Linked DNA regions of Homo sapiens. The protein of the gene in region 3 interacts with the protein of the main gene of each other region in a biochemical or structural test. Each region holds a gene or a part of one and is shown on either strand. Other genes may lie near its edges. The genes, in order: KCTD3, RAB9A, GRIP2, SLC22A3, PBK, SLC2A3 and FAT3.

Region 1 (4,150 bases), on a different chromosome or scaffold from region 3:
TGAATACTTAAATTGCCATATATAGTATTCCCTACTTAGGGATCTTCTCTGATTATAAAAAACTACATATGACAAGAAATAAAATTATGCCACTTTCATTCAGTGATTATTAAAATATCAGTTCTCCTATATTCTTAGAGTAACTATATGTTAGGACCAAGCACTATAAGCATTAATTTAGGAATATGTATCAATTATTATTATACTCACAGCACCAGTTTCATCTCGAAGTGTTGAAATTCTCCCACTCAGCAAACTGGAAGTCATTAATAATCTAAAGTTAGTTTTTAAAATCTGAGTATAAACAAATGTGCTAATTCTTTACCAAATGTTAAAGACCACTAAAAGTAAGTTATCTATCTTCCAAGTTCAAAAATATATAATTTTAAGAGTTAACCTTTTTTATTAAAAAAAATTTAACTGACAAACATTATTATATTTTGGTAAATAAATGTATTAAAATATACACTAAAGAATTATAAGACATACCTGGAAAAAAAAGAATCTGGAATCCACATAAGAGTTTGTCTTGAGGTACTAAATCTGCAATTAAAAATCATCTGGTATTATAAGTGAGAACATGATTTGAAATTTCAGTATTAGTTAACTTGTTTTAATACACTGGCTAATGATTTACAAGATGTTTTATAGTTATAGCTGTACCAATATATTTATTACAGTTAATATTTTTAAACGTTGCTACTTTCAATTCAGAGTTAAGATTATACAAGCAGCTCTCAATAACAATAAACAACTTGTTATCCGCCATATAATGCATCTTAAAACACTACTTTCCAATAAGCTAATCTCTGCTGAAGAATCAACAATTAGCCCATCACACCAAGTCTCAACTTCTCAGTATAACATTCAAAATTACCTTCAGGTTCCATCTCATCTCTCCAGTACAAATGCTGGTTTTCCCCTCTAATAGGACAAAACTTCTTCATATCCCCAAAAAATTCATGCTTACTACCATTTTGGTATCTTTATTCAGCTAGATCACTCTCTTCATGTCCAATAATTCAAGATCCGTCCATCTTTCTTGATACCACTCAGGTTTTACCTTCCCTGTAATAGTTTTTCTAAATATCCAATCCTGTATTATCTCTTTTTAAGCTCATAGTAATTTCACTGTAAATTACTCATTTAACACCTTCTTTATAGGCAGTCTTGGGCTATCTGCAACTGCTGACTTCATTCATTCAAAAATCATTCAGCCAAATACATCACTGTTCTGAGGTTGTCATTTGATCAAGCTTGTATATTACCAAGGGAGGATCTTTACCAAAGTACAGTATAATAGACTGGGACAACAAACCAATAATTTATGTAAACTGATATGGCAAACAAAGCAATATAGTACTTGTTCAGTCCAGCCCTTCTCTGAGTATTTTCATTTTAAGATATCACCTTGAACTACAATGTTATCTCACCCAGCCTAGCAAACCTCTACTTTCACTCCACATTTATTTTCTGGCATTATATGAAATCCCTAAATTTATTTTTACCTTTCATACTTAAACTAAACAAGGTGACTGAATAGTGGCACTAGTTACCATGCACTATCACCAGGAAACACAGGCCAAACCCCAGCCAAAATGGCTAAGGGATGTTTCCCAGGCTGTGCATGTATACACTGTATCATCCATCTATTGTCTGCCATTACCTAAATTAGCAGCCTGGAATTATCAAAAACGTGGAAGTTGCTTACTTTTTTTTATTATGCTCACTGCAGCATAACAAACCTCAAAATACATCCTACTTCCCATTCCCATCTTCTAAGTGGGCTATTAAATAGCACTGGATTGCAGGCCAGGGTGACTGTGACTACCAAGGCTTATACAGAGTAGTGTCAGAAGTCTCACAGATCTCTCAACTTTGCAAGTCCATCCAGGCACCTGAGGCAACAATGGCTCATAATATTTTACATATCTTGATAAATGGATTATCTGTAAATTCACTTTTCAAACTCAGTTTCAGAAATGGATTTTGTATTAAAAAAGTAGATGTTGTTTTTTCTTAAAGCCAGAGAGGACCACCTAAAAGCATTGTTCTTAGCACCTAGCACACACCCAGTAAATGTTTATTGAAACTTATGTGTGATAAACAGAATCACACTCTAAAACTCAGTTAAATGTTCTGTACAAAACGGAGACTTGATTCTTCTGTACGATCTGCAGGCATTTTATGGTTACAACAGAGCACTTTCAGAATACACTGGTGTTGACACACAGATGTCACTAAACTGCCCACTTAAATCATTTAGCAGTATCAGTCTCAGTGTCAGTAACAGCAGAAGCCGTGTATGCACTGTTCCATAAAAAGTGCCTTAGTCTCCAAAATAAATTTTCTATCATTATCAAAACATGCTTTCCAATCACAATTAAAAGTTTATCTCGGCTAGGCGCGGTGGCTCACGCCTGTAATCCCAGCACTTTGGGAGGCCGAGGCGGGCAGATCACGAGGTCAGCAGATGGAGACCATCCTGGCTAACACGGTGAAACCCCGTCTCTACTAAAACTACGAAAAATTAGCCAGGCGTGGTGGCGGGCACCTGTAGTCCCAGCTTACTCAGGAGGCTGAGGCAGGACAATGGCGTGAACTCAGGAGGTGGAGCTGGCAGTGAGCTGAGATCGCGCCACTGCACTCCAGCATGGGCGACAAAGCGAGACTCCGTCTCGGAAAAAAAAAAAAAAAAAGTTTATCTCCACTTCTTCCCACATACAACTTTACAATTTGTAAGGAAAAGTATTCTTTCATTGGCTAACTGAAGGAAAGACAGTAAAACAATTCATTTATTAAAGACATTTAAATGTAAACTACAGTAAGGGGTACTTTAGGGAACACATAGAAGTTGACTACTAACTAATTTCACAGGTTATGGACAGTCTAGGTGTTTATAAGCAGTTCCTACGCCCATTTATCTGATTAACAAATGAGTCACTTTAAGAAAACACTGCAAATGCTCCTAAATGCGTTTCTTAATAGACTCTTAAGAAAAATAAAAAATACACAGATTACCCCAGTCACAGAAAACTGACTTGGTCCAAAATCAAAGCAAATCCACTCAATGGTAAATTGAAGGATCCAAGGATTCATACATTGCAGATTCACTGTTTTGGAGGCCATCAAATTCATTCCAAATGAGGACAGCTTATAACTTGCAATCTTTTATATTCACCACTTATTCACCAATTGTATTCCAAATAATTAAAATTATGTGCTACTTAGAAAATCACAAAGGTCTGCTTAAAATCATATTATCAGTTTCAATTTTAATCAGCATTTTGGGGAAAGGTTAGTAACCTGGAATTTCTGGGCAAAGGAATTAGACCCTCATCCCCACCAATTTTTTTTTAAACTTCTGGCCCCAAAACCAGTCTCGAATATAACTTCATGAAAACTAACACACTTAAAATTACACATGATGAGCATAATCATTTGAAAGCCTTTTCTGTTTTGATTTGTTTTTTATCCCATACCCATAGTGTCCCAAGAACAGAGTCATGTACAATCTGGTTTCAGCAAAGGACTAAAGAAATTTGCATACCCACAGTTATACTTCATGCAACTTGCCTCCTACTAAATTAACTTGGTAGCAATCTAACTAGTTATTTATTCTGCACTGTAAGTACTGATAATGCCACTAACCCTTGCATTTCACATTTATTACTTCAAATTCCTATAACAATCTGATAAGATTGGTACTACTGTCTGTCACTTTACATTTTAATAGACTAAGTATCAAAATATTTGTCCAAGGTTGCTAGGCTAGTTAGAGATAAAGCCTGGGAATTGGAAACATATACCTGACTCAAAAGCTCTTTGTCCAGGAGTCCTCAATGGCTAGTCCCAGCCCTCTTGCATGAGGCCCAAAATCACACTTGCCCATAACAGAATTAATCATAAATTCAGTCATAGTGAATTCACTTCATTACTTTTTGTAAATAACGAATACTAACAATTCTAAATGAAACTTCATCTACTCTACTTTCTGAATCACCCACAAAGTATTAAACCATAAAAATTAGTCATTTCTATAATTCCTTTGAGTATATCCATTTTCATGTCTATTCTCCTGAGGGAAAAAAAAAAAAAGACCTTACCGATAGCATATGCTTCTCTGCTCCCAACAAACTCTCCTTTTGAG
Region 2 (4,150 bases), on a different chromosome or scaffold from region 3:
AGTATATTACTTCCTCTTTTATTCTTGTTATTCTATTATTATTCTATTTGTGCTTTCTGTACCTAAAATTCTTTGTTTCTCTATCAGTTCTCCCCGCATTCTATTTTTGAGGTCTATTAAAATGTGTGGGTAGGAACAAAAACATTGATTCTTACTTGCAATCCCAATGAGAATCCCACTTTAAAATAAGTACTATTGACTGACTGCGACAGGGAGCTGGCAAATGCTGAAAAACGACTACATTCCTTAATAAGCTGCCAAAGGGAGAGCAGGCATCATTTGTAAACTGCCTTCTCAAAACTTGAGATTTTAAAACACATACTCTGTAACCCCTCCAAAAACTTAAAATGAATTTATCACTCCTGGTTTAAATTTAGGAACAGATTTTTTTTTTTTTTTTGGTCAAATTCACAAGTTCCTTTGGATTCACCCTGAATGTCCTACTTAGAGGTGTACTTACCACTTCATTTCACTTCATAGCTTGAGGAAATGAGGTTCAAAGAAAACCAGGGAAACAAAAGCATGGATAATCTGAAAATTATTTCTATTTTTGCTGGAGCTGTATTTATTTCCTCATAGCTTAATTTAGGCGTGTCTCACTTAACAGCCTAATTGGTTCCACTGTTTGTTTCTAAAAACTTCCTGATTGTCTTACAGAAATTTATGAGCAAGAAGCAAGTCAAGGAAAGTCATTATGTCTAATGGGTACCAGCTCTACAGCAAGAAATTACCAAGAAAAATAAATAAAGAATTAAGAAAAATACTGTCAGAAAATACCATACTTAGTGTGCAGGAAGAAGCAAAAGAAAGAAAAGGAAATACCATAGGAATAGGCCAACTTGGAGGCAAGACCTGCCAAGGTGAAATAAATTATCTAGTCCTATCTAGTTAATCACTGAGCATTACCTCAAGAACAGGAGGCAGCTAGAGGAGAAAAACTGTATTATCAAACCATACTATCGCTATGTCAGAGCACCTCCCCTATTGAAAGAACTTATTTCAATTAAGTAACTTTTTTTGAAGCTGAATCAGCTAACTTAACTTTTAAGAAATATGTTAACATTTTTCTTAAAACAAGGCACCTCTGTAGGTATGTTAACTAATCACTAACAGTGGTGGGGGGAGTGGGAAAGGAGGAAGTGAGAAGGGCCAAAAAAAAAAAAAAAAAAAAAAAGAAAAAAAAGAAAAAGAAGACTTAGTTAAGGAACTAAATCTTAAACCATCATGAAACTATATAGTGCAGCAAAATCCAACAGACCCTTCTGCAATGACGACAATGTTCTATAATCTGCACTGTCCAATATGGTAGCCACTAATCACATGTGGCTACTGAGCACTGGAAAGTAGCTGGTCTAACTGAAGAACTGAATTTTTCATTTAATTTTAACTAGTTTAAATTGCTACATGAGGCTAGTGGGAACTGTGTTGGACAGTGCAGGCCTAGAGTGTGGTTAATTGGGAGTCCATGAAATGAGCTTCAGGGAGAAAATACACTCCCTAGAATCACATGTGAAATAAGGATGAGAGCATTGGTGGAAGCTTGTGTGCTTGCGCTTTTTTTCTGGAAAGAACAAAAAATGTTTCATCAGATCTTAAGGAGTTTGGACACCAAGAACTGATTGCTACATGCCTGCATCATTTGTATGTTATGTGTGATCCATTTCTGTAGCTCATAACACCCTTCAAGAGTTTCTGTCTTTAGCAGAATTTCCTCTTTTTCTCCCTCACCCATGAGACTTTTATGAATATCACACTTTGACCATAAACTGTGATAGTTCAGTGAACAGCCTTACTCATGGGAAACTGCTAGTCCTGAGAAGTGAGAATAATTTTTTTTTGTTTTGCTTAAGTTTTAAGAACCAAGCATAAATCTACCTGCGATGACACTTACCTGTAAAAGGTACTTACAATACTTTTTGACAATAGAGTGCACTTTGGAAGACAGAATTAAAATGCAAAGACATAGATAAAAGTCACAAGATGAGAACATGGGGAATTAAAGGTAGATATTTCAGGAAGAAAAACAAATTATGAAAGGAATGAATTTGAACATATATGTCAGAAAAATATATTAAAGCAGCAAAACACAAATCAAAAATGATCTGCAACGTTCTGCTATCACCTAAAGAAACATTGGTTCTGAGGCCTCCCTTCCAGTTCGATAAGAAACCAAATGTCTTTAATTTACAGCAGACAAAGCTAGGGGTTGGGGAACTATACAAACTCACTGAGTGAGGGGCTCCACAAGGCATGGAGCCACAGCAAAAGGAAACTTCTCGACTGTTAGAGAAGTTAATTACAAGGAGTGAGGATTTCCTAAGAAGATATATTTAAAGAGGGGCAGCTATGTCCGGTATATAGGACTCGACTAGACTAGAGGCTCCCAAATACCACTCTGCAGGGAAGTTGTCACCAGCTCAACACTGCAGGCAGCTCTTCATCAAGTTCAGTTTATCCAATGTAACTGTCACTTTGTCAATGATCCCCCCAGGTCTGCCCCTATCGAAGTGTTGAAACTGACTTTTCTCACAAAAAGCTTTCCAAGCCCAACCTCACTCTGCCCATCACTACCCATTTCTCAATGTGCCTGCAAACCTGATTAACTCTCTGCTCAGTTTATAGGACACCAGGGCTCCCACCCCATCCTTTCCCCCTGATTGTCAGCAAAAGTCACCAAAGACCTCCTAATGGCCAATCCAATGGCTTTTTCTCAGTCCTCATCTGAATGCCCTACGGCACATACAACCCTAAGGTGAATACAGGGAAAAGTTCTTCTCTCAGGACTTCATTGTGTATGTTTCTAGAAAACACCTGCAAGTTTGACCAGCATCTCCACCTGAGGCCCAGCTAGTATATAGTGAATTCTCTCAGGTGTAGCCATCTGTCTGAATGTGCATGAACTAAAATCTTGGAAGGGTACCCAAGTCTTTTTTCTTTTTTTAAAAGACAGAGTCTTTCTCTACCACCCAGGCTGGAGGGCAGTGGCATGATCATAGCTCACTGCAGCCTCAAACTCCCGGGCTCAAGTGATCCTCCCATTTCAGCCTCCAGAGTAGCTGGGACTACAGGTGCATACCACCAAGACTGGCTAATTTTTTTTTTAATTTTTTTTTTTTTTTTGTAATGACAAGGTTTCACCATCTTGCCCAGGCTGGTCTTGAACTCCTGGGCTCAAGCAAGCCTCCCTCCTTGGCCTCCCAAAGTGCTAGGATTACAGGTGTGAGCCACCGTGCCTGGCCTCAAGTGTTTTTTAAAAACAAATAAGGAAACAGGTCTAACTGGGAAAGTGTCTTACACAGGATCACACATCTAGCTAGAGGCACAGGGGAGACCTTCAAGTCTGAGCCAGGACTTACCACCCATTACTGCTTCTATCAGGTCCAAACAGCCTGGCAGTAATCCTCTTGAAAATGTTTCCTAATTGTCCATAAAACCACTCTGATAATAGGTTCTGCTTTCTCTCCTCCTTGGCCCCTTAGCTTTCTTCAACATAGACAGCTCCCTTTCCTGACAAGCTCTTCATGAAGCTATTTCACGAGACTGAAACCCTTACCTGTTTCCAGATGGTATCTCCCTGGGCTATAAAAACCAGTGATTCCTAAAGTCTACATCCGCATGTCTGAGCCAGACAAGAATTTGCAACCCCTTGTATAGTATGTTCATCTGGTACCCTGATGGTAGTTCAAATTCAACATATCTAAAACTGAGCTAATTATTTTCTCCATTTCGAAAATCTCTTTCTTTTCTCTTACGCACTTCATTCAGCCACACATGAAATATGTCCACTTTTCGCACTACCTATTGCTATTGCCTTGCTTGCTCAAATAATAAATGCTATGGCTGTAATTATATTAGCAGCCACTATTAACTGAATATCTACTAGGTACCTGGCATATAGCACCTTAAAATTACCTGCAAGTTGGACACTATCATCCATGTTTTATAGATCAATAAACAGAAGTCCACAAACTTCCCCAGGTCTAACTAAATAGGGCAGGTCAAGTATGTGTTATCTTCACTCCCACCCAGTGACAGAAAAGGTCTACGTAAGGTACAAATCCAAAAAGGACACCAAGAAAGAACAACTGTAGATGCAAGACAGCAACAAAATTTAGAAAGTGGAAAGCAAATGGTCCGGGAGTGACAGAGT
Region 3 (4,150 bases):
ACCTTTCCCATGCTCACCCATTCTACGTTTTTCTTCTGCATTCCTCATTTTCATTCCTTTGACAAACATGAATTAAGCACCTACTGTGTTCCAGGCCTTTGCTGGGCTCTGAGAACACAGAAGCAGGCAGAAAACCAAACCCAGCCTAAATATTTGTCACCTTCCAATGCTCTCTCACCATGGGCACCTCACAAGCCCCCTGGGAGACCCACGAGGCCAGGGGACTGCCATGGTGCAGAACGGGAAGCTGAAGCTTTGGGAAGCTGGGGTCTCGCTGAGAACACGCAGCTGGGTCCACGGAAGCCAGCCTCCCCACACCCCCAAGCCTTTTCCTCGGGCCCCGCAGGGTGTCACGCCATGGAAATGCTGGTCTGAGCTTGGCAAGCTCTTTTTCCCCAGCAGTTGAGCTCGCTCCCAGGGGCAAACAGCAGCGGGAGGAGACTCACAGCTGATGGTGATGCCCAGCTCCACGCTGCGCTTCTTGGGCAGCTTCACGTGGAAGGTGCCACTGCTTGGGATGACGGACTCTGGGGGTAGATGGACATAAACCGACGTGAGGACCCAGAGGAGGAGCCTCAGCGAACCCCAGCCCCATGCCCATTCTGGCTGTGCTGGGAGTGACCCCGAAAGTCACAGTTCTAATCTCATCCCCCTGCTTCCTCTCAACAGAGGAGGAAACTGAGGCAGAGTGAGCTGACAGATTTGCTCAAAACAACTGACCTGCTCTAGTCAGACCAGAGTCGGGGCTGGAACCAGGCCTCTTGGCTGTCGGCTAGTGTGGCGGGCGGGAAGGGAGCTCCCCACAGCCTAACAACCCAGTGTGAATCTAGCACATATTTCCTGAGCACCTACTATGTGCCAGGCCGTGGCTGGGTATTTTCATGTTTTCATTTCTCTTGGGCATATGCCTCACCTAACCCAAGTACCGCCCCTATAGTGAAAAGATCGTTATCAACTATTTACGGATGGGGAAACAGTGGAGGGAGTGTCCTGTCCAAAGCCACACTGTGTTGAGGTCACAGAAGCAGAATTCTGACCCAAACTGTTGTTCGAGGTTCTTTGCCTAACCCATGCTGAGAAGGAGCTTGGAGTATTTTCAGCTCCCCAACCCCATCCCCACTTGGTCCTGCCCCTCTGCAAAAGTCTCCTGGTGTGGAAACTTCTCCCTCCCGTGCCAAGGCTTCCCTTCCCACTATAAGCTGCAAAGCCCCTGGGAGAAGGGCACTGGGCACAGAGGGGGATGGGGTGGAGCGTTTGCACAGGCGAGGCAGGATAAAGAGAGGAGGGGTGCAGGGCCCTGAAATATGAGGAGGAAGCTTGGGCCACTCACTCACCCGCCACATCGAACTCCACCTCCAGCACGACCTTGTGGGCCAGTGCGGCGTCCCGCAGGAGCTGGTTGGCTTCCTCCATAGTCCCGTCCTCGGTGGCAATGCCATTGATGGACAGGACACGGTCCCCCACCTGCAGCAGCCCACACCTGAACCCAGGGGGCCCGGCAGAGAGAAGAGGCTCCGTGACAGGTCCATTGGGAGACAAGAACGCCATGCAGGGCAGGACTGAACCTGGGTCACACCTCCTGGTCTGGGGTGACTCTCAGCTCTGCCCTGGCCCACCTGTGTATCCTCAGGAATCTGGCTAAGGGCTGGACCTTGCTGGACCTCAGTTTCCCTGTCTGTCCAATGGGGATGATGGCATGGGCCTTACAAGTTGTGTATACAGAGGACTCTGCCTTCAGGCAGACAGGGGTTCAAGCCCTGGGATTCCATGGGTGAGCTGTGTAATCCTGGGCAAGTGAGTCAGCTTCTCTGAGCCTCGGTTTCCTCATCTGTAAAATGGGGCTGGTGCTGGGGCTGATGCAATGGTTAAGTGAGATGCGCTTGTGAAGCTAGGGCTTGGTGCTGTGACTCAGTTTCTCTCAGAGAGTGGCAGGCTCAGTAGGGAGGGGGCAGGAGGCTCACCTCTCAGCCGGACTGTCAGGCTCGATGAAGCACACGAGGGGTGGGGAGGACAGGGTCTCGGTGGCGAAGATGCCGCCCTGGAGCTGGAGGCCAAAGCCGCTGAGGGGGTCTCCACAGAGCACGACCTCCGTGGTCTCCGTGTGCACAATCTGCCCGCCCGGCCCCACCGTGCTGGAGGCTAGCGACACTGTAGGACAGGTGGGCCCAGCATTCAGGTGAGCCGCCCCACGGAGGTCTTCCTGCCAGGGCCTGCCCATCCCGGGGCCCTAGGCACTGGAGCCAGAGTGCAAGGAAGTGGGAGCCCTGACTCAGTCTGGGACCAGACAGATCACAGCTCACTCTGAGCCTTGGCTTCCTCATCTGAACAATGGGATCGTTGATTCCCACCTCGTGGGGTGTGGCAAGGACTAGGGAAGACAGTGGCTGGGATTGACTGTCATGCTGTAAAGCAGGTTCTGGGGGGCAGTGTCATTTTATTGTATTATTGTGCTGTGATCTACTGTAGTATCTACTATATTATGTCACTCTGCTTTTCGGTAAGAGGTTTATTGAGATATAATTTACATACCACAGTAGTCACCTATTTAATGTGTACAATTCAGTGGTTTTTAGTGTATTCACAATTATGCAAACATCACCACGATGCATTTGAGAACATTTCATCACCTCCAGAAGAAACCCTGTTCCCTTCAGCCATCCCCAAAGATCTTCCTATGTCCCTCAGCCCTAGGCAACCGCGAATCTACTTTCATCTCTGCATTTGCCTGTTCTGGGCACTTTATATAAACAGAATCATGCACCATGTGGCCTTTGTGACAGGCTGCTTTCACTTGGCATAATGTTTTCAAGTTCATCCACATTTTGCAGGTGTCAGAATTGCATTCCTTTTTGTGGCTGAATAATATTCCATTGTATGGATACACCACATTTTGTTTATCTATTCATCCATTGGTGGATACTGCGTTCCTTCCACTATTTGGCTACAGTGAATAATGCTACTATGAACATTTGTGTATAAGTTTTTAGGTGGAGATGACACATGTTTTCACTTCTCTTGGGCATATACCTAGGAGTGGAATTGCTGGGTGATATGGCAACTCTATGTTTAACTATTTGATACATAAGGTTATTTAATAAATATTGTTTTACATTCCATATATGAAATATATTTGCATCATTAATATGAATCCTGAAAGTCATTTATTATTTATCAAACAAAATTTATTTGGTATTTCATTACTAATTATATTATTGTGTCATATTATATTATTAAATTATATTGTATATTATACATTACAAAATGTGTAATATGTTATGTTTTTAGGTATATTGTGTTTTTATATGTATTTATTTATTTATTTTGAGACAAAGTCTCACTGTGTCGCCCAGGGTGGAGTGCAGAAGCGCCACCTCGGCTCACTGCAACCTCCGCCTCCCGGGTTCAAGCGATTTTCCCACCTCCAGAGTAGCTAGGATTACAGGCGTGTGCCACCATACAAGGCTAATTTGTTGTATTTTTGGTAGAGATGGAGTTTCGCCATGTTGGTCAGGCTGGTCTCGAACTCCTGGCCTCAAGTGATCTGCCCACCTCGGCCTCCCAAAGTGTGGGGATTACAGGCGTGAGCCACCATGCCTGGCCTATTTGTTTCTTTTCACTACTATGTCCCCATAGTATGTACATTCAGTACTATGCCCCATAATTAATTAATTATAATTAATTAATAAATTACTATCAACAGCAATAATGATAGTACTTTCTTAGTTACACATCCCAGGAAGGAGACAGGCAGAGGAGTCGCAAGAGCCTCCAGTCTCCACATCCCCCACCTACGAACAGCATTTCTGCATCTTTTCATCTACATATTCCCCACTTTGGTGGCCAGGAAAGGTGGTTAGTAGAGATATATTTTCTCTCTCATCTGACTGAAATCTGTTTCCCATTTCCCTTTGGCTGCCAGGGAGTGTAGAACCATATTTAGCTTTTTTCAGACACCAGGTGACCTGTACTCCTCTCTTCTTTCACCTGGTTCTATCTCAAATGGCCCAGTTTGATCTTCTATCCTTCCTGGAGGCCTCTGCAGCTCATGTGGCAGGAGGCTGAGAACCCTTTCTGCATCAACAAAGGAAAGACTGTTCCCAAGAAGGGTTTCAAAATTTTAGGCATTATTGTGTTTTGCCACTTCCACAGG
Region 4 (4,150 bases), on a different chromosome or scaffold from region 3:
TATTTTAGAGCGCTAGATGCCTTTCTGAGCAGGTTGGATTATAGGAAGTACAATTCAAGAACCGTTTGTTGAGCATGAGCAGCCACTACATTGGAACATTGTTCCAGGCAATGACCTCCTAGAGAGCCAAAGCACACTGGCTTTTTGTCCAGGTGGTAGTTTCCAGTCATGCCTTTGAGCCACCACGTTCCCACAGCTGGTGCCCAGCTGTCCTTTCTGTGCATACCTTGCGGTGGTGACACAAGGAATAGCCGTTCCCAGCACACCTGGGGAGTTCCTCACGTGAGCTGACCTTGGTTTCTAGAGTGGAGCAAGCTTTGAGGACCAGGATCTTTGGAAGGGGACATCTATTCTGTGTGTTACCACTAAGGCAAATGTCACTCATTGTCTTCTTCATCCCCCATTGTACTACTTCCTTCAATAAACCATCCAGAAGGAGCCACATTCATCAATGCTAATTGGTTCGTCCATTTTAAAATGAACTGTTTTAGGACTGCTCTGGTTGTATGAAGAAATTTTCCTTTCCTCCCTACTAACTAGTGGGAAATGCCAAACATTCTATATTAAATATTTTCTTTCTTTTATGTTTTAAGGGCAGAGGAGTTAACCATTTTTACTCTAAAAAGTCACTGCTCTAGCTTTCCTAGAAGTTGTGCAATTGATGTCATCCTTTCCTAGGGGATTTGGTATTGAGGACATATGTCTGCATGAACAAGACCATATCTGCTCTCCAAAGCAAAACGAAGCATGTCCAGTGTTCATGTGCCTTTCATTTTCCCTTTATATCCAACACATATGTTCATTTAGCACTAAATAGTCCTCCTGTTTCCTAGGGGAATTATTGAACCTTCCTGAATATATAATTTTTTAGTAGAAATGAATGAGGAGGATGAAAGAAGAGAATCAAGCCCAGTAGACTTCTGTGTGTTCTCTCTAGAGAATAGCCAAGTCAAAAAAAAAAAAAAAAGCTAAAATTCATTAAATAAAACAATTGCCCAGGAGCACAGGTGTAAGGAAAAGATGGCTCAAGAATCCAAACCATTTCTGGGAGTCTGAAGTTTACATATTTTGACTGCAAACTGGCCAAGGACATCCTGGTGCACTTGATGTTTTTCCCACATGAGAACCCTTGTAGCTGTCACGTTAACGGTTATATCAGGCAGTGAGGAGGCCAGGGTTGTGCTGATGTGCTGGGCCACTGTCTGCTCTGGAGCAGAAGGTTTGTCAACATGTGTTATTTAGGCTTTGCTTCTTTATGAAGACCAAGAAAAGGGGGGAGTGGAGACTAGGTAATGCATTCCACTCCATCTTTCAATGAGCATGTGGTACTGGAAGGGGAAAGTGGGAGCAGAGACTCAGATTCCCTGGGTCCCAGCCCGATGGGACCATCTCCTGCCACTCCCGGGCTGCAGTGAAGGCTGCCTGCTACCTAGGAAACAGCTTCACTATCCAGGTTGGGTTCTTCCATTGTATGTTTCTTTTCACTAAATCAAGATTGCTCTAAAATTGAGTCCCACCGACAAATTCAAGGGCAATTTGGGTTTATAACCGAGGCAAGGTGTTTCATGGAAAAATCCAAACAAAAGCCAGAGACCAAATTAAAACACACACACACACTCCACCATGATAAACATATGTGGTTAACTCAGATAAATAGCCAGTCAATTCAGTAAAACATTCAGAAAATGCCAAGTTGCCCCATTTGTGGAGATGTGGTCTGTCCGGAACATTGACCTTAATCTGAAAGACTCCCAACTCTTTTCCAAGCAGTAGAGTCCAGTATCAAACTATACTGGAACAGAGATTTTGTTGAAATGTGTAACCAAAGAAAAGTTTCTAAGGCATTGCATGGTTCATTAACTAAAGAGTGAAAAGAAAACTGTAGGAAGTATGAATAAATATATACACACAAAGAAATTCTTGATTCCAGTAATAAGCTAAATTCATTTTGAGGTGGCCATAGACATCTTTTGGTAGCAATGACAAAAACCACAGGGCAATTTAAAAATGAGTACTGAAACTAAAATTGTCTTCCATGGAATTACATGAGAACAAAGAAAATGTTTTCTTCTGAATGTGGATTTGGTCAAGCTACTAGAGATGATTGGGAATAATACCTCAATTCCTGAAGAAAGGATGCAGGACTTAAACAAAACTTTATATGTCCTCTGAATGGATCATCTACTCTGAGTTCTGAAATAAAGTTTAGTGAGAAATTCTAGTAGAAATGTCTAAATTAAGATACATGAACTCACTTTTCAATTAAAGAAAAATAAAAGTGGAAGACAAGTTTTCCAGTTCAAGAAGACGACTTATCCAAACTGCTAGGTTTGTGGTCATCCTAAATAAACTCAAATTAAAGATGGCAGACAGGTATGGATAAAGAAAGGTCTTTATTTTCCAGACATTAATGAGTGTTAAGAAATTTGGACTAGAAGCAGTGAGTCTGAGATGAGAATACAACCAGAACTACTATTTCTTCTTCCAGAATTCCATTCTTTAGACCATGAAAAGTTGGGTCGAGTGGAGGGAAAGCTGATTAAAGTGTTTGCTGTGAGACTATTTTAGAGCTGGTTTCTCCAAAAGCTCATCTGTATTCTCCCCAGGGGCTGGCGACCTACTACTGACGTCAGGAATGGCTGAGCAGAAAAGCCTTTCTCGTGCTAATTAACCAGTGGCTGGAATCAAGTCCAATGGGTCTTTAAATTGGAAGGACTCAAGGGAGGATCGTCTGTTAATATTTGGAACTCAGTTTAGGGATTTGAAATGTATTCTTGCCAGTCAGTCATGACTGACATATGACTATAAAAGCAGCCAAGTCTGCAGAAGGTAAAAATAAAATGTGTCTAGAATAAGAGCAATTCATTTTCAGTCTTGCTGAGAACAATTCTAAAGCTTCAATCAGGAAATTATATCTATAAAATAAAACTGGTTAGACAAGGGAGAACAGTCTGTTCTTGGTGTTATATTTTCCAATATATGAAAGAATTCTCTACAAAATAGTTATATGACTATCCGGCTAGTTACTTCTGTCTTGATTTGGACACACAGCCTTGAATGCTTTCTGGGGTCATTCTGAATGCAACAAACATTAAAGTCATCCCAATCAATCTAGGACCAGAGAAAATCTTATAGAGTAAAGTATATATATATATCATGAAATGAGGGGACACACCGAAGCATGCATCTTTCTCGCTGCATTTCTAATTTCATATACAATGAATATTTCATTCATTCCTAGTCCACATACGATGAGAACAGAAGACTTCATCTCAGGGAGCTACAGTTGTATGTTATATCCAAAGTACCAAAGTAAAATAGAACAGTAACGTCTCCAATGTTTGCGATTTTTCACTCTTCTTAAATTATACAATTTTGAGGGCAGGAATTATGTCTATTTTGTTCACCTCTCCATTCCCCTCCTAGTTCAGTGGCTGGCAATTAGTCGATACTAAATAGATACGTATTAAGAGATAGCTATTGTACAGATCCTCCAACTCTTATAATATGTTAATTCCATGTAGTGGGTTGAACAGTGTCTCCCAAAATTCATGTCTACCTGGAACCTCAAGGCTACTACATTTGGAAATAAGGTCTTTGCAGATGTAATTAGTCAAGGTGACACTGACACAAGCAGAGAAGAGAATGTCCTGTGAATATGGAGGCAGAGATAGGAGTGACACCAAGGAGCTGCAAGGATTGCCAGAGAGAGGCATGAAGAGACCCTTCCCCAGAACCTCTGGACATAAGCACCCTTGGATGCCTTGATTCTAGACTCCCAGCCTCCACACCCCTGAGAGCATAAATGTCTGTTGTTTCAAGCCGGTGAGTTTGTGGTACTTATTACAGCAGCCCTGGGAAGCGAATGCACTCAAGGAAAACAAGAGAAATGTAAATAGGTGGTTGCTGTTCATCATCAAACATTCCAACATGTCAGGGGACTTGTACATTGTGTGTGTGTGTGTGTGTGTGTGTGTATGTGTGTGTGTGTGTGTTCCGAATATTGGCATTCCTGTAATTTTATTCAAATAGGGCCTACCTCGTGTTTTAAGAATTCATAAACCTTCATTTAATTAATAAACTCATCTGTAAATGTCTGACTGTTCTGACTCCCACTATATTGTCCATTTCTTGGCTGGTCCTCAGAGGA
Region 5 (2,997 bases), on a different chromosome or scaffold from region 3:
TCTTTTGAGAATGAGGCAAATGTCCAAAAAGATAACATCTGAGACTTAGAGCAAGTTCTAGAACAAGAATAAAAAAAATTTTCTTCCAGTTGGTAGCAGATTGTCTGCAATCTTGTGTTGAGGATTTCTAGGACCTCACCAGACTCAAGGGGCAGTGCATGCTGGGATTATTTTGTAATGTCTACCATAGACAAGGGCTGTGAATTTGCTGGTCTTGTCCTTGGTATTAGTTTATTCCTATTAGATATCTCAACTGTAGGAAGTGGAAATAAATTTCTCAATGAAAAGCAATGGCTTATGTATTAAAGAGCCAATTCAAGAAAGATCCAGTTCCTGCTTTAAGTCTTAAAGCAGGAACTGCTATTCCTGCTAGGAAAAGAATGCCCTGGAGAAGCTGCTCTGTTGGCTTGGCAAAGAAGAGTGACACATGTCAGAGTGAGGATAAGAGACCCTATTGAGTATCAGGATGCAAAATTATACATACGTTTTTCTACAAATTAAGACAACTTCCAATTTACTTGTCACATTATTTTGATGGAATATATGCAAATTAATGTTGTGTCCTATTGCTTGGTACAATCTTATACCAAAAGGCCTTCAGTGATTTCTAGGCATTTTTAAAGTTCAGAGTGCAGTTGTTCCTAATGTTTCTGAGAACGCCCTGTGTCGGTAATTTTTAAAATTCTGTCTACACCCAAATGTAGGTATACCACCTACATTGGCAATTCAGTAATTTGGAAAATTCCCAGGGGACTGTGGCTTACAGAAACTACTGATCCAAAACACTTTATAGATTAGCAAAATAAGGCCAAGAGAGGGAAAGAAACCTCACATTTACTCAAGTTTAATGACAACACTCAAATCAATGAAGTATAAAATAATGCTGAGACACCTTCTGGTACCCAAAGTGTCCTTTATTCTTTATCATCCTATTTGAGTTTTATTGTTTTTACACAGCTGGGAAATGCTTAAGGTACAAATTAATAAATTTTAAACTCAGTATGGAAAATACATTTAATAAATTAAAGCAAAAACCAAAGATCTGAGGAGATCCAAGAGATCAAGACAATCTGTAACCAGAGTCTGAAGTATCCAAGGAGCTACTCTTTTTGAGGCATATTCTCCTCAGCTTCCAGTTATCATTTGATAAACACATCAGCAAAAGGTTCAGTGTTTTAAACAAATGTAGACTTTATTTTGTACTGTACAAAGTGCTAATGTCAGTAGATCCATTAAAATATAGAATATTTAAGAAAGATCATTAATAAAAGTAATGGTCATTCAATTTAATGTTACAGTTTACAGCGTTTTACTGCTAGTGTTTTAAGTCAGCATGAGCAGTATCAAAGTACTTATGTAGCTAGTTTCTAAAACTTTACAGAAAACCCAGTACAATTCCAAGTGCTTATAGCCAATATAAGCATATTTCATATTAGAAATAGTTATCCATATGTTAACAAGAAACTATGGTCCTCAAATATGCCAATTTTAGAGTCTAATAACTACTGATAGTAACTATGTAAATATTTTGGAATAAACAGTTATTTACGCAAGCCACACTTCAGCTGAGATGATCACTAGACATCTGTTTCCAGAGCTTCAACAATGTGTGCAGCAGAAGGACGATCTTTAGGGTCTTCATTAGTGCATACAGAGAAGAGTTCAATTACTTTCTGGTATGATTCATCCAGTTCTTCCATATTAATAGGTGGCCTAGTTCCCAACGCTGCATAGTATGCTTCATCATCAAAATCACTTTCATCAAAAGTTTTATCTTGAAGGAGTTAGAGATTGAAACAATAAACAAAATCACTTTATGTCATGGAAAAGTTTAATAGCTCACCCTTCTCCTGAAACAAGAATTTATGGTCCAGTATGCTTTCCATTCTGCCACAGACAGAATGGAAATGTCTTCAATTGTCCTGCCATCAAGTAGATTTGCTTTAGTCTTGGATTTATAGGTTATCGACCCCTACTTTTACCCTTCCTGTGATAGTTTTCCAATCAATCATTTTCTCAGGAAAGGGGAGTTTTTAAGATAATGTTTTGCTTCTCTGGATAGCCTCAATTTTTCTCCCTATTCTCAATCTATGTCTCATTTGTGTGAGATTAAACCTTGGTGGTACCAAATCAGTCATCAGTACTAATACATATCTTAGAAAGATAAAATTATATAATCTTTAGTGTGAAATGAAGAGATTGGGATTTATGTTAGAAATTGTATTCATACCTTCATCATCATCATCATTTGAAAGATTAATGTGTGGAATCGATAAAGTCATCATTTCCCACAAAGTAAGGCCAAAGGCAAATATGTCTGCCTTGTCAGTAATAACACCATTCTCCTCCACAGCTTCTTTGGGTTTCCATGGCTCTGTGCCAATGTAACAAGCCTCAGGGTCAGTCACTGAAACAAGCAAGATGGTTATGAAGGCAGGAGCTACAAATCACGAAAAGGCAAGCAACCCAAAGGGAAACAGGCGAACGATTTGAACAAGTAGTTCACAGGTTAATCAGTGTAGCCAGAAAATGTAAAAATACACTCAACCTCAATAAGGATTACTTTCTACCTTTCAGGTTGGTAAATATTCAAGAAGCTGGTCAGTTGGCAGGTATGTAGAGAAACAGCAATTCTCTTACAAATTAGTAGGAATATAGAATGTGGATGTTGAGATTACAGACTCTGGAGCCAGACTGCCTTGCTTGGGTTGGTTCAAAGACATGTGTGTGCAAGCTGCGTGACCTTGAGCAGATCACTTCTAGACCTGAATTTCTTCATTTTGTGAACAATATTAGGCTGAGAGAAGTACCATTTCTATGCTTCCATGATTGCTATGTCAAGGAAAAGGGAAAGGGACCAATCACACATAGGCTCTTTTTTAAAGCCCAAGAAAGAAATAGGTCCACTCACATTTCCATTTAAACTTGAGTCAACTTGTCAATTTCAATGAAAAAGCCAGCTAAAATTCTCATTAGGATTGGACTAAATCTCTGGAT
Region 6 (4,827 bases), on a different chromosome or scaffold from region 3:
TTTCCAGTTATGTGAGAATTACTTGCCCTAGTCCCTTTTTATACTTTATAAAAAGGGAAGAAGGGAAACACTATAAATGACTTGTGGGTCAGAACTCTTTTGTCCTATTATTCTTTTTTTTTTTTTTTTTTGAGACGGATTCTTGCTCTGTCGCCCAGGCTGGAGTGCAGTGGCGCTGTCTTGGCTCACTGCAAGCTCCGCCTGCCGCGTTCACGCCATTCTCCTGTCTCAGCCTCCCGAGTAGCTGGGACTGCAGGCGCCCGCCACCATGCCCGGCTAATTTTTTTTTTTTTTTTTTTTTTTTTTGTATTTTTAGTAGAGAATGGTTTCACCGTGTTAGCCAGGATGGTCTTGATCTCCTGACCTCGTGATCCGCCCACCTCGGCCTCCCAAAGTGCTGGGATTACAGGCGTGAGCCACCGCGCCCGGCCTTTTTTTCTATTATTCACTGAAGAATCACCAGCTTCTTGGAGAGTACCTGATACATAGCGTGTATTCGGCAAATACCTGCTTAATTGAATTCGGTATTTATTGCATTTCTAGATGCTATAAGCTTGAGACTAGCAGAAAGTGATGCAGAATTCAGAATGGGTGATATGGCAAATGCCTTATTAAATATAGGGCTCGGCGCGGTGGCTCACACTTGTAATCCCAGCACTTTGGGAGGCCAAGGCGGGCAGATCACAAGGTCAGGAGTTTGAGACCAGCCTGGCCAATATGGTGAAACCCCGTCTTTACTAAAAATACAAAAATTAGCGGGGCGTGGTGGCGGGCGCCTATAGTCCCAGCTACTCGGGAGGCTGAGGCAGGAGAATTGCTTGAACCCGGGAGGCGGAGGTTGCAGTGAGCCGAGATCGCACCACTGCACTCCAGCCTGGGCGACAGAGAGAGACTCCATATCAAAAAAAAAAAAAAAAAAAAAAAAAGGATATGGATTGTATTCCATAAACAGTTGAACCTCTTATTCCTACTGCCCTGATAGTTGGTCTGGCTCCTAGAAATTCAGATTTTCTTCCCTCCAGGTGAGATTATGCGAAGAAAGGAACACTGGCAAAATTATTTCCCTGATTTTCTTCTCTCAGGCTGTCTTTCCCTCCCCTTTAAGATTGTGTACTCCGTCTCAAAAAAAAAAGAAAAAAAAAAGATTGTAGACCCAGCCTATAAATTCATAGGATCAAGAATTCTTACTAACACTCTTTCTAACAACCTTAAATCTCTGATAGTAGCACCCACTTGACTTCGTTTTGTATGGATAGATTTATTCTAATCTCTCTGTAGATTGTTTTAATCCCAAGCAGATGCGAGAGCATAAAATAGTGTATTTGCCCTCCCTCCAGGCTTTTCTGGTAGTATTTTGTCTGTGAAACTAAGAGGCTCTAGCTGCTATTAGAAGAGGGAAGGAGTAAGGATGAGCTTTTGAAAAAAAAAAAAAAAAAAAAACCCAGGGTGGAGAGAGTGGAAGGATGTGGTTTTAAGAGAGGGGGGAGGGAGGGCGTTATTGTCTGTGGGGCGGGGGCGGGGGTAGTTCTGATAACACAGAATTCCGAGAGATCACAAGATTGCTTCAGGGGGGTGGGGTGGGGTGGGGTGGGGCTGGGGGCTTGTCGCCCTTTCAGGCTCCACCCTTTGCGGAGATTATAAATAGTCATGATCCCAGCGAGACCCAGAGATGCTGTAATGGTAAGACTTTGGATCCTTCCTGAGGACGTGGAGAAAACTTGCTGCTGAGAAGGACATTTTGAAGGTTTTGTTGGCTGAAAAAGCTGTTTCTGGAATCACCCCTAGATCTTTCTTGAAGACTTGAATTAGATTACAGCGATGGGGACACAGAAGGTAAGAATGATATAATTACTGGTTATTTTTGCTTGTTTGGGATACACTCAGAAAGGCAAATATTAATGGTAATCTCCTTGTTCTATTTTCTCCTAAGTCACCAAGCTATCTTAAGGCCTTTTCATTTCGTCTCTAGCCTGCACTGCTGCCGCTTCATCAGTTCTCTTTGAATGTCATACAGTTCTGTTCACCTTATCATAGGAAAGTCACCCGGAGAAGTTGTGTTTGCTTCTCAGGTTTATTTTAGGTAACCATATGCCACTGAGGACGAGATGGTTGAGTGTTTAGAGGATCGGGCTGCTTGGTTGTATGGATTACAAGTGTGGGTCTCAGAGCCAGTGTGAAGACTTCTCTGGAAGCATTAGACCTTGAAAAGGTCTGTGTTTGGAGGCACAGGCCAGGGTCTGGCCATCTGTTTGTCCTATAACATATGGGGTTCGTGGATGCTAAGGAGAAAGAATTCCAGTTGTCCTTCCTATTAGGGTTAAAATCGTGAGTGCAGGACATACTAAAATATTGAGTGTTGTATATGCATTATTTGCAGGGAGAAAGGCTTTTCTTTTTTTTCTGATTGAGTTTTACTCTTGTTGCCCAGGCTGGAGTGCAATGGAGCGACCGCAGCTCACCACAGCCTCCGCCTCCCGGGTTCAAGCGATTCTCCTGCCTCAGCCTCCTGAGTAGCTGAGATTACAGGCATGAACCACCGGGCCCGGCTAATTTTGTATTTTTAGTAGAGACGGGGTTTCTCTATGTTGGTCAGGCTGGTCTCGACTCCCGACCTCAGGCGATCCGCCGGCCTCGGCCTCCCAAGGTGCTGAGATTACAGGCATGAGCCACTGCGCGCAGCAAGAAAGGCATTTTTTACCAAGATAAATTTAACTAAAAATAAGGGGCCAGGTGTGGTGGGTCACACCTATAACCCCAGCATTTGGGAAACCAAGGCAGGAGGATCACATGAGGCCTGGAGTTTGAGACTAGCCTTGGGCAATATAGTGAGATCCCATCTCTACAAAGCAGAAAGAAAGAAAATGTAGGAAAATAAGAAAGGGATGGAAAATTATGAGACTAAAGAAGAAAAGGCTCTCAAAGATAGTGAATGATGAGAGGAGACAGAAGAGATTTTTACTAAACGGAAAAAGATTTAACAGAGCATTGCACTGGCAGGGCCCTCCGGGGTACCGATGCTTAGCTGGGACTGAGACATCTGGGAGGCTGCAGGCAAGGTCACTTCTCCTGCTGAAGCTCCCAGCCTGCTGCCTAATCTGCCCGACCTGAAAGGAAAGGAGTTTAAGATATGAAAGGTTGAAGGGATTTTGGGTGGTGGGGTGGGGGGGAATGGCGTAGAAGTTGGCCTCAGGTATAAAAATTGAGCTGCCCCAAGGTAGAAATGGAAAATGTCTCGCCCGGCTGAATTATTCCAGGCAAGGTGAAGATGACCGGTTCTCCCCACTAAGAAATGTCTCTTATATGTTGGGTTCGCCCTTATATGTTGGGTTCAGAGTAAGTACTTTCTTCCCCTGCGCGGGAGTTAGGGATAGCAGAACTGTATTTAATAAACGAAGACTGAAATGGGGCCAGGATGCAGTGAGTAGATCCAGTAGGTTACATGGTCCTGAGAGATAAGAGACTCAAAGAGCCACCCAGCAGTGAAGACACAAACTACCACCCCCTCCACCACCACCAGTGGGCTTCCGTGGAGTCTGGGGTACAGATCAGACTGCACTGTATTTGTTTCCAGAATGGTCAATTCTTAGTAATCCTACCCGAGACTGTCTTTTTCTCTGCCCTCCCAGTTCGTGAGTGGAATTCTATGCCTACATTTGCCTGATGCAAGTTTTTAAATATTTCCAAACTGACCAACCCAGTTTCTCTTAACTTCTTCCTTCCCCAATTTTCTTTCATTTTTACCAAGTTAACTTCACATTCTTATCTCCAGATAAGTTCTTTAGTATAATCTATTCCTTTGTCTTCCCCATTAATTACCTAAATCTCATTGGATGTTCTTTTCATACCACTCATAACTCAAATTCTCCTAATACAGCTCCATAATTAATAAGAAACAGTCATCAATCACAAGTTTTAAGGACTATTCTCTCCTCTGTCTTCCCTCCCTCCAGGTCACCCCAGCTCTGATATTTGCCATCACAGTTGCTACAATCGGCTCTTTCCAATTTGGCTACAACACTGGGGTCATCAATGCTCCTGAGAAGGTGAGTGCCAGGCCACAATAATTAGAATTTAGAATAGGGAAGTTATTCCTTTAAGTAGGGTTTCAGGAATTCAGAATTTAAGGCCAGGCATGGTGGCATCTGCCTGGAGTCCCAGCTACTCCTGAGGCTGAGGCTTAAAGATCACTTGAGTCCAGGAGTTAAACACCATCCTGAGCAACACAGTTAGTGAGGGTCCCTCCCCAAACTAGGGGATTTTAAGACAAACTTTGTATCTATCCTGTCCAAGACTGAAGATGGAGACAATATTGGTGGGGAAAATTAGTGGGGTCATCTAATCGAAGCACAAAGCTCACTTACTCCCGGAACGCTGGGCGGTGCTGTTCTTCCTCCCACTCTTTCACCTCATAGTGATGCACATCCTGTATTATCCCTTAGGGGTTAGTTACAAAGAAGCTGGGTTCCCTTAGCAGAGGGCTGGGGTAGACTGTGAACATCGGTGCTGCCACCTACTGGGATTTTCAGGACAAATAGAATTACTATTCCAGCGAGAGTTAACATAAATTCCAATACGTTATCTGCCCCTTCCATTCCTGTCTATTTATTCCCTTGATTCTCTAGGAAGGAAATGATCCCTAATGTTTGTCTTTTGTTCTCATCCAACTGTAACAGTCTGTTCTTCCACCAACCCTTTTATTTTGCAGATCATAAAGGAATTTATCAATAAAACTTTGACGGACAAGGGAAATGCCCCACCCTCTGAGGTGCTGCTCACGTCTCTCTGGTCCTTGTCTGTGGCCATATTTTCCGTCGGGGGTATGATCGG
Region 7 (4,150 bases), on a different chromosome or scaffold from region 3:
GAAGCGGCCAGAAAGACTGCAGACGACTTTGCCTGGATCCAGGCGGCAAACTCAGGTGGTGGAAAGGGGAAGCCCGCCATCTAGGAATTGAGGACCGAGGTGCCCACATCTCAGTATCGATCAAACAGAGCCCAGATTTCTTCTCCACCAGCAGACACTGAACTTCTCTTCACATTTACTGAATGCTTGAATGATGTTCTGGTGTGACGTGGAGATTTGAATCTGAGAAGGAAAGGAAGGGAGGAGGGGATGGAGGAGAGAAGAGAGAAGAGATTTGAGAGACTGAGATTCTTCAGAATCCTAGAAATTGCACAAAGCCAACTGCTTCTGCTTTTTTTCTTTCTTCTTCTTTTTTTTTTTTTTCTTTATTCCTAAATTGGAGCAATTGAACAGTGAGAGAATAAGGAACAGCCAAGGAAACCAGGGCTCTAAGAGACAAAGACAAAAAAAAAGCATAATAACTTTAGCACTTTGATGTGCTTCTTATTTAATAGGGTTGGAGTGGGGGAAGTTTTTTTTATTTTTTTTTTAACATTTTACAAGGAGAAAAGTTGTCTCTTAGAATTAAACCGAATGTTGATATTCAATCATGAATCTCAGTTGTTGCCTTTTTGGAACTTGAACAATGAGTGATGCTGGGGCCAGTTTCTGTGCACAGTGCACTGGGATGAGAAAGTTCCCAGAACTGTCCAGTTATAATGTCTTCATATCATCTGAATCACACAGAGAACTCCACATGAAAGGCAGCTGGCTCAGAGATCAGAAATCAGTCAGCTGCTGGGCTGGCTCCATCTCTTGTGGCTGCAGGATTTTCACAGCCAGGGTTTGTTGACCAGCGACTGGCTCTCAAGCCTTTTAGAAATCTTTCTTTCAAATTTTATTTATTCTGGTCTCTGGCGGAGTCATTTTGGGGATTTTTTTAATAGGACCCAGTCTGTCTGTTAACTAGCAATTACAGTTGTGCTGAGCTACTCAAAAATGAAATGAGTAGCAATAAACAGTGGATACCCACTGACCTGTATGCTATACGGTTATTTTGCTAGCCCACAGCCTTTGTAAAGCTATGGCTCTTCAGGCTGCTCACAGAAGAACATTTTGATGTGTCAGGTTATGTTATCATCCCTGCTTTCTTCTTCATACGATCCTGAATGACCTTAGCTAATCTGGCTGATGAATTATGTCAAATAGAAAGAAGTAGGCAATTACCAGGCAGGAGAGGGTATTTAGTCATTACCAGCAGGTCTGAGGAGTGCTCCTGGTGGCTGTTGCGTTGTTATGCTATATTAATAGCTCACAAAGCATAAAGGACTATTGTGGCTTTATTTTACCAGTTGTGGCATTGGGGTATGGCATTCCTTCATAGCCCACATCTGTCCAGTTGCCTGGTGGGTTGGCTTTTTCCTCTAGGGCAAGAAGGAGAAAGATAGTAATGAGGATATTTGATTTTTTTTTCCATTGTGGGGTCATCCCCAGGTTTTTCTTTTTTTTCCTTCTGCAGGAGCCTTGAGTAGGGAATCATCTGATGGGAGCAGGTGGGCCTGTCCATTTGAATTGATTTCCTTTGATTGCTGAAGAAGGACTATTGATGAACCACTTCTTTGCTGATTGTGGCAAACATTAGAATTGGAATGGAAATTTAAAAGAAAGGGATCTGACAGACTTAGAGTGAAGGATTTGTGTTCTGCCCAATTCCTTCCTAGAGTTAGCAGAGCCTCTGATTTCTACAGATATGCATGGTCTTAAAAATATTAAAGGAAGCACAACTCCTGTGTATGCAGTTTTACTTATTGGTGAAATTTTCTGCAATGCTTTTTTGATCTCTAACTGTTGAATATGTCATTTTCATCATCTTTCTACCCAAATTGTGAGGAGTGGGTCTTTGTTTTTTAATATATCCTGACCTCTTGAGGATCACCACAGTGTGACAACTTTCTCTGGGAAGACTCAGAGAGTAAATATCTTTTCTGTGTTTTGGTCGATTTAATTCTACAGGCTTCTCAAACTTACTGAGTTTTCTGTCAATTGCAGGGTATCTACTCCTTTAATAAGCTTTATTCCTTTCCTTGTTTTCTTTTTTTGTTTTTTCGTGTTTTTTTTTTTTTTGTTTTTTGTTTTTTTTTACATTGCCTCCCTTTCTCCAAATTTCTAAGAATAATTTTCAGGAAAGACTGCCTTTCCTTGAAAAAGAAATTCAGCTTAATGACACAGACTGCATTTATTGAGAACATATTTGACACTTGTCTAGTGGCTTCAAGCCAGTTTCTGGTCTACCAAAATAGGCTATCAGTTACATGTAATAGTGACAAATGACCCATTCTAGCAGTTCTGAATTGGAATGGCATTTTCAGGTTAGTCTTAATTTTAGCATATTCCAGGACTTAGATTTTTTTTCTTTTTTTTTTTTTTTTTCTGCTAAGTGGAAGGGATGAAAATTTGAGAATGGATTAACTGGCATGATGATAGAAAATAGAAAACAGATTTCAGAACTTAATCAATTAAACTCTTCACATAAACAAAATATTACTTCCTTCACCAGATAGATATATATGAATGTGGAGAGCCTAGAGGAGGTGTGAGGAGGGCCACAGCATTGTCCTTCCTTGAACAATGCATTATTGAAGGTGTTGCCTACCGTGGGCGGAAAAGTCATACAGAGGACCCTGAGAGGAGTCCTTGAGCAGTTGTTAGTATTTCAACGTTCTGCTCTTCCAGGGTTCCAAAACTGTGAATTATAGACTCTTTAATAAAGGAAAGTTGTTTCTTTAACTTTTGCCTTTGTACATCTGAAATATATCCCTTTTTAAAATTCTGTAAAGTCACATGGAATTTAAAATAATTTTTTGTCTTTAAAAAATGTCTTGCTTTCTCCTCTATTTTCCCTATTTTATTTTTGTTATTTATTTATTTAGAAACAGAGTCTCGCTCCATTGCCCAGGCTGGAGTGCAGTGGCGTGTTCTTGGCTCACTGCAACCTCCGCCTCCTGGGTTCAAGTGATTCTCATGCCTCAGTCTCCCGAGTAACTGGGATTACAGGCGCACACCACCATGCCCTCTTAATTTTTATATTTTTAGTAGACAGGGTGTTTCACCATGTTGGCCAGGCTGGTCTCGAACTCCTGGCCTCAAGTGATCCACCCACCTCGGCCTCCCAAAGTGCTCGGATTAGAGGCATGAGCCACCGTCCTCAGCCCTGTTATTTATTTTTTAAAAAAATTATTTTAAAGTTCTTTTCAGCGATATTTACTGAATCTACCTCTTTCACAAGACAGTGGGCAAGATTCAAAGAATAGTAAAATATATCCATTGCTTCTGCTTCGTGCTGTTTATTGAGAAAATGAGAGATGCCTGTGTGTGTACACTAGAAGTCACATCTAAAAATGTTTATTAATTGACAAAAGAATGTCTATGAACAGGAGCCTCAAGGAGGAGGGAGAGATTAATGTGAGGTGGAGTAAACTTTTAAGAGGAGTGTAAGTTATTAAAGTGAATATAATTCCATTTAATAATTCTTACTACAGCCCTAATGTATGCAAGGCACTATGAAATAAATTAATTCCTTCATTTGTCAGGGGGCAGTGCAGAGCTCCTTTTTGGAAGAACGTATTCATGGGGCAGCCCAAATGGGCTGTCGGAATGTTAGTTAATATTTTGAGAAGACTTCAGAATTTATTCATGTCCTTTCTCCACTATCCCCTTGTGGTCTCCCACCCCCCAATTTCAAAGGTAACTTTTAGGATTTTTGAATGTGTCTGGGAGCCTGCATGCAGGTGCACATGGTGTATTCTTAGTCCTCTGTTTTCCTATGTTTGAGACTCAGTTATGAATCTCAAGGTTAACTTTGTCACAGAACACCTCAGAGTGTTCTGTCCTTTAGGTATTCATCATTTAGATCTGTTGCTTGGTTTTTTACCTTAAAAAAATTTGTAAAAAATGGCTTACAAAGTAACATTAGCTTCCAGAATGTGAGTGAAAAGGCAGACTTTTACCTTGGACGTTCTCTATGACTTGATCCTACTTGTACTTTTCAGAGCAGTTGCAAATAATATTTCAGTTAATTCTTTCTTTCTTTTCTTTTTTGAGATGTTGGAGATAAGCCCAGCTGTTGAATGAGGCACAGTTATGAAAGGTTAAGTGGAAGTTTAATTGTAAC

Evidence for each region.
Region 1: the proteins of GRIP2 (region 3) and KCTD3 interact in a test that uses a peptide from one of them, tested with the Homo sapiens proteins (one large-scale study listed by IntAct).
Region 2: the proteins of GRIP2 (region 3) and RAB9A interact in a test that uses a peptide from one of them, tested with the Homo sapiens proteins (one large-scale study listed by IntAct).
Region 4: the proteins of GRIP2 (region 3) and SLC22A3 interact in a test that uses a peptide from one of them, tested with the Homo sapiens proteins (one large-scale study listed by IntAct).
Region 5: the proteins of GRIP2 (region 3) and PBK interact in a test that uses a peptide from one of them, tested with the Homo sapiens proteins (one large-scale study listed by IntAct).
Region 6: the proteins of GRIP2 (region 3) and SLC2A3 interact in a test that uses a peptide from one of them, tested with the Homo sapiens proteins (one large-scale study listed by IntAct).
Region 7: the proteins of GRIP2 (region 3) and FAT3 interact in a test that uses a peptide from one of them, tested with the Homo sapiens proteins (one large-scale study listed by IntAct).

Annotation. Positions count from the first base shown.
Region 1 is NC_000001.11:215,570,179-215,574,328, reverse strand, and holds part of KCTD3 (BTB/POZ domain-containing protein KCTD3), read right to left. Parts: intron 544-4,150; coding exon 490-543; intron 263-489; exon of another isoform or gene 257-262; coding exon 211-256; intron 1-210. UniProt on the Homo sapiens protein: Accessory subunit of potassium/sodium hyperpolarization-activated cyclic nucleotide-gated channel 3 (HCN3) up-regulating its cell-surface expression and current density without affecting its voltage dependence and kinetics.
Region 2 is NC_000023.11:13,695,215-13,699,364, reverse strand, and holds part of RAB9A (ras-related protein Rab-9A), read right to left. Parts: intron 1-4,150. UniProt on the Homo sapiens protein: The small GTPases Rab are key regulators of intracellular membrane trafficking, from the formation of transport vesicles to their fusion with membranes.
Region 3 is NC_000003.12:14,512,331-14,516,480, forward strand, and holds part of GRIP2 (glutamate receptor-interacting protein 2), read right to left. Parts: intron 2,149-4,150; coding exon 1,962-2,148; intron 1,481-1,961; coding exon 1,335-1,480; intron 528-1,334; coding exon 447-527; exon of another isoform or gene 109-446; coding exon of another isoform or gene 107-108; exon of another isoform or gene 1-106.
Region 4 is NC_000006.12:160,438,425-160,442,574, reverse strand, and holds part of SLC22A3 (solute carrier family 22 member 3), read right to left. Parts: intron 1-4,150.
Region 5 is NC_000008.11:27,808,728-27,811,724, forward strand, and holds the end of PBK (lymphokine-activated killer T-cell-originated protein kinase), read right to left. Parts: exon of another isoform or gene 2,441-2,997; coding exon of another isoform or gene 2,408-2,440; coding exon 2,231-2,407; exon of another isoform or gene 1,775-2,230; coding exon 1,578-1,774; 3' UTR 897-1,577; downstream 1-896. UniProt on the Homo sapiens protein: Phosphorylates MAP kinase p38. Seems to be active only in mitosis. May also play a role in the activation of lymphoid cells.
Region 6 is NC_000012.12:7,933,026-7,937,852, reverse strand, and holds the start of SLC2A3 (solute carrier family 2, facilitated glucose transporter member 3), read left to right. Parts: upstream 1-1,665; 5' UTR 1,666-1,818; coding exon 1,819-1,833; intron 1,834-3,950; coding exon 3,951-4,043; intron 4,044-4,705; coding exon 4,706-4,827. UniProt on the Homo sapiens protein: Facilitative glucose transporter. Can also mediate the uptake of various other monosaccharides across the cell membrane. Mediates the uptake of glucose, 2-deoxyglucose, galactose, mannose, xylose and fucose, and probably also dehydroascorbate.
Region 7 is NC_000011.10:92,227,404-92,231,553, forward strand, and holds part of FAT3 (protocadherin Fat 3 isoform 1 precursor), read left to right. Parts: intron 1-4,150.